Linked DNA regions of Homo sapiens: region 2 is linked to region 1. Evidence: fine-mapped expression QTL. A gene starts in region 1. The other region holds a variant in brackets. All regions are shown on one strand. Distances are from middle to middle.

Region 1 (2,919 bases):
GATCTCGGCTCACTGCAACCTCCGCCTCCTGGGTTCAAGTGATTCTCCTGCCTCAGTCTCCCGAGTAGCTGGGATCACAGGTGCGCACTGTGCACAGCTAATTTTTTGTATTTTTAGTAGAGATGGGTGTGCCGAGCTAATTTTTTGTATTTTTAGTGAGATGGGGTTTCACTATGATGGCCAAGCTGGTTTCAAACTCCTGACCTCAAGCGATCCGTCTGCCTCGGCCTCTCAACGTGCTAGGATTACAGGTGTGAGCCACCACTCCCAGCCATATGATTTAAAATTTTTTTATTTGTATAAATTTATGATGTACACATGCAATTTTGTTATAGCATAGATTGTGTAGTGGTCAAGTTGGGGCTTTAAGGTATCCATCACCCAAGTAACACACATTGTACCCATTAAGTAATTTCTAATCATCCACCCCCCTCGCCCTTCCAAATCTCCATGGTCAGTCATTCCACTCTCTATGTGCATGGGTGATTTGAAAGAACTCCTTCCTCTCATGTTCATCAGTCACACCTATGGTGGTGGCCAAGTCTAAGTTCTGGACACTGCCCACCAGTACCAGTCCTCAGCCCAGGGAGCAAGTGATTAGGGCAGAGAAGCCTGGTGGTTCTAGCCCATGGGCCCTTTCCCCTATTTGAGGCAACAGAAGGCATTTGCTTCCCCAGTGACTTGAGCTCCCCGAATAATGAAAAACTCTCCCTTCTACTTGATTAATACTTCTCACAGTCAGTAAACAAACCCAGAGCCATGGTTTTATCTTTCTTGGATCTTTTATTACAGGTAGGGCTTGTGTTGAGGAAAAACATAAATAAACCTGAACAATGGATCTACTCCACTGTTAATGCCCCTGAAACTCTGACTACATCCTCATGAGACTCTGGAAGTTAGAAAAGAGGAGAAACAAAAGTAAAAGAAAAAATATGAGCAGAAAAGAAAGGAGGCCATGCTCAGAGGGAAAGTGAGGAAGTTCCAGAGTCTTTCTAGAACGGCTCCCCCTCCCTCAGAAGGTGGTGACATCAAAATCCTACAAATATGAACTGGGAAACTGTTCAGGCAATCCATTGCTCCTGGAGTCTGAGTGTAATACATACACGTTTCTGCCCCTGGCTTCTATATTTTTCACCACAAGTTTTAGGAAGAAAAGCTGTGCCTTCTAGGCTGCCTCGACTTTGGAGTTAGGAGAGAAGAGGACGTGGGATACTCACGGGAATCGCTGTGCTTCACCATTAACACAATGATGAGAGGTAACAGGAACGCCATCAGTTCCCCCATAGTCCTTCTCTTTCCGGGTTCTTTTAACCAAAAACTGACAGGTCCCTTCTGAGAACCTCTTGGTGACACACAAGGCCTTCTCCCAATAAGAACAGGGGAAGATATGCAGTGTCATCAGTTGCTAGGTTAAAAAAAAAAGATAAAATGAAAGCATGAACACCTTCTTCGGTAACTTTTAAGTCTTTGCTGGTTTCAGACACTGCTTGCTCCTTTTGGTGTATCTATCTTCACCCTATTCCCAATTTTTAAATATTTATGGAGCATAGTCATGTTCAAAGCACAGAGAAACAAAGATTAATCATATCTGGTCAATCAGGGAGCTCAAGCTGCTGCCTCTGCTTCCCTGGAGCTTAGAATTTTGCTTAAGGGTCAGTAAGAAAGAGTCACAGTTCCCACGGCTTGGAACTCCCTGCTCTGGCTCCCTATGATGCTGAAGTCTCTGTCTGAGATAGCAGGTGTCACTTAGATTGTCCCGTAATCTTCAACTTAGGTCTGTCCTCCCTGCTACTCTAGCACCCAGCACAATAAGCTCAAAACACTTACTGAATAAAAGAAGGCAAGAGAAAGGCCTACAGAAGATTCTGAGGGGCAGCCACTCAGCTTGCTCAATCAGCAATCCCCAAGATCAAGCTGTGGCTACACTGTCATAAGGAGCACATGACAAGCTGGAAAACAGCAGCTTAAGCTTGTCCAGGGAGCTAGGGAACAGGCCCAGACAGGAAAGAGGAAGTAGACATGAAGGGGAGAGGTGAATGGAGGCATGGCCATGAGGCAGGCAGGCTTGAGCTGGGTTCAGGGACCTGGGTTTGCCTCCCCACTATTTGACCATGGGCAGAATCCCAAATTGCACCAAGGCCTGATTTCTTCAACTTTAAAAGCAAATCCTGTCATATATTTCACAGAGTTGTTGAAGGATCAGAAGTTCTGTTTATGATGCATTTAGTAGGTAGTAGAACCTTATGTACCGGTTGTATGGTAGGTTGAGAATTGTCGCCCCAAAGATGTCCACAACCTAATTGCCAGAACCTGTGGATATATTACCTTAAATGGCAAAAACAAAATAAAACAAAACAAAACCCTTGGCAGATATGATTAAATTAAGGATCTTGAGACAGAGAGCTATCCTGGATTATCTGGTGGACCCAGTGTAATCAGAGGGGCCTTATTAGAGGGAGGCAAAAGGGTCAGAGTCAAGGAGATGTGACAATGGAAGCAAAGGTCAGAGTGATGATGCCATTGCTGAAAGAAGGACATGAGCCAAGGAACGCAGATGGCCTCTAGAACTAGAAAAGAGAAGGAACAGATTCTCCTTAGAGCCTCCAGAAGGAACACAACACTTTGATTTCAGCTGATAGGACACATTTTTGGACTTCTGTCCTCCAGAACTTTGAAAGAATAAATTTGCATTGTTCGAGGCCACTAAGTTGGTGGTAATTTGTTATAGCAGCAACAGGAAACTAATAGGTCTACCTTTACCCAGAATAAAATAAGAAGCCAAATAATGAAATTAACATTTGGCAATCTCTCAGCGGCCCCTGGCACCTTCTCTTCTCAGATCTTTGTATTTCTCTCTTCCTTTCCTTTCTGTTTCTTTACATTGTTTTTCCTTTTGTTACTCATTTAACAAATACAGTC
Region 2 (2,919 bases), 49 kb before region 1:
GGGGTGAGGGGCAGTGTCAAAATTGCTTATGCAATCAAATAGTCATTTGTATGACATACTAAATATTTAGGGGGAAAAGATCTATAAAAATACATTATTAGCACTTTATGTAAGTGATACTCCTTTTTTTCTTCTGAGAACAGACAAATCCACTTTTTTTTTTTTTTTTTTTTTTTTTGAGACAGAATCTCACTCTGTTGCCCAGGCTGGAGTGCAGTGGTGTGATCATGGCTCACTGAAACTTCCGCCTCTCAGTCTTCCAAGTAGCTGGGACAACAGGCGCATGCCACCACAATGGCTAATTTTTGTATTTTTAGTAGAGATGGGGTTTCACCATGTTTGCTACGCTGGTCTCAAACTCCTGACCTCAATTGATCCACCTGCCTCGGCCTTCCAAAGTGCTGGGATTACAGGTATGAGCCACTGCACCTGGCCCAAATCCACTTTTTAATTTGTTCCTTTTTTCTCTCACTATTCTGGATATTGTACATCTTTTTTTTTTTTTCTCTTGGCTGCTTGATTTTCTTTTTCATTTTTCTTTTTTTTAATTTTAATTTTAATTTTTTTTTTTTGAGACAGAGCCCTGCTCCATCGCCCAGGCTGGAGTGCAGTGGCACAATCTCGGCTCACTGCAGCCTCCACCTCCCGGGTTCAAGCAATTCTCCTGCCTCAGCCTCCCGAGTAGCTGGGACTACAGGCGTGCGCCACCATGCCTGGCTAATTTTTGTATTTTTAGTAGAGACAGGGTTTCACCATGTTGGCCAGGATGGTCTTGATCTCTTGACCTTGTGATCCGCCCGCCTCAGCCTCCCAAAGTGCTGGGATTACAGGCGTGAGCCACCTTGCCTGGCCCTGGCTGCTTGATTTTCTATATAATTTTTAAATTTTCAAATGGTGTTTGACTAGGAATGCACATCAAAACCTGTCTTTTTCCCTTCTCTCCATTTTCATTCCTAAACTGCTTACAACCCTGCCCACCTTCTTGTACTAAATTTTGAATCTTTGTTCAGATAACCTTAAATTGTTTTTTGTTTTTTCTGTTTTTTGGTTTTTGTTTTGTTTTTGTTTTTGTTTTTTAGACAGAGTCTTGCTCTGTCACCCAGGCTGGAGTACAGTGGTGGGATCTCAGCTTACTGCAACCTCTGCGTCCTGGGTTCAAGAGATTCTTGTGTCTTAGCCTCCCTGGGATTACAGGCGTGCGCCACCACACCTGGTTAATTTTTTTGTATTTTTAGTAGAGATAGGGTTTCACCATGTTGGCCAAGCTGGTCTTGAATTCCCGACCTCAAGTGATCTGCCTGCCTTAGCCTCCCAAAATGCTAGGATTACAGGCGTGAGCCA[C/T]TGCACCGGCCACTAGAGAACCTTAAATTGTTTTTATGATCAACTTTTTCAGATTCTGTCTCCTTTAAGACTCCTAAGGAAAACAGATTCTTCAATAAGGGTAGAGCAATCAAACTCATTAAAATGAGCCTAGGATCCTATCAAGCTGCAGAATGAGAAAACACCACCATATAAAACCCTAGACCTGTGCTGTTCACTACATTGGCTACTAGCCACATGTGGCTAGTGAGCACATGAAATGTGTTAAGTACAACTGAGGAACTGCATTTTACGTTTTATGTAATTTTAATCCATTTAAATTTAAAAATTGAAGCAGAATACGTGTTCCCTGAAACCCAATCTTATTGTGTCATGTTTTTGAATTTTGAAAATCTAGCATCTCAGTTGATATGTGCTGTAACCGTAAAATACACAGCAGGTTTCAAAGACATAGGATGAAAAAGAGAATGTAAAATATCTCATTTGTATTTTTATAATGGCTATATGTTGAAATTATATAATTTAGATATATTGGGTTAAATAAAATAGATTATTAATATTAATTTAATCTGTTTATAAAATTTTACATATGTGGCTCAAATTATATTTCTATTGGACAATACTGCCCTGGGGACAATAAGGGGAGAGGGAGGTGTAGACATATAAATATGCATGAGCATATTGTGGGCAATTAACAAATGTCCTTGATTGGGGAAGAGGGAAAGGACAGAAAAGATAAATTTTAAAAGAAATGAAACATAAAACACTTAGATAGTTGTAGAGTTAAGGAGAAAATCAAAGAAAAATGTAAACAACAGAACTAATTGGCCAGAAGAAAGTTCTTTCTAAACAGACAACCACAAGTTCGAGGAGCACAGTTCTCCTTATTTGAATGCCATGACATAGAAATTATCACAATATTAGTTTTTAATTCAAAATATAAACATGAAAACTTAAATTTCAGAGGAGTATTTACATGGATAACATCAATCCCCTGGGTTGTTAGGGTGCATTTATTCCTTTCAATTCTGATGTCTTTCTAGAAGTTGCAGGACCATTTGTTTTTAATGTGCCATTTTCCTGCACAAAAACCCTCAGTGGCTTCCCATGACCTTTTATGGCAAAAATCCAATTCTCTGGCGTGGTCTCCAGAGTACTACACAATACATTGTCAAAGACAAACAACCGAGAGTGGTGCATAGAGCTGGGGCTCATTGGGTGTCCTGGCAGCTCTTACCAGCTGTGTGTCAGCAAATTTGAAGGTGGTCCTTTTCTCATAAAACTGGGGAGTTGGACTAAATCAGTAGACCTCAAACTAAGGCTGTACGTTAGAATCACCTGGGGAACTTTTAAACTTCCAGACACCCAGGCCTCACCCAGATCAGTTAAATCAGTCTCTGGGGTGAAACCCAGCACTGAAATTTTTAAAAGCTCCGTGAGTAATTACAACGTGCATCCACATTTGAGAACTGGTGTCCTAGCTGATTGTTTTAGAATCATTTTAGGTCCAAAATTCTATGATTCTATGAACCTAGGCTAATCTTTCCAACCTTTCTACTATCCTGAACAACATAAATGCCCTCTTTCTCAGCTAGACAG

Evidence for each region. PIP is the estimated chance that this variant, and not a neighbour inherited with it, causes the effect.
Region 2: its variant is the best candidate, but not a certain one, in a credible set for the expression of MR1 in lung (TOPMed, PIP 0.58).

What each region holds. Positions count from the first base shown.
Region 1 is chr1:181,032,373-181,035,291 of GRCh38, reverse strand. It overlaps MR1 (major histocompatibility complex, class I-related), which reads right to left and starts at 1,309. Exons shown (of 6, transcript NM_001385161.1): 1 at 1,218-1,309. The coding sequence starts at 1,284. RefSeq lists enhancers at 1,400-1,509, 1,640-1,739, 1,940-2,129.
Region 2 is chr1:181,081,146-181,084,064 of GRCh38, reverse strand. No RefSeq gene overlaps it. Among named protein-coding and RNA genes, the nearest start is that of IER5, 6.1 kb to the left of the region's middle. The variant C/T (reference allele first, on the strand shown) is at 1,342.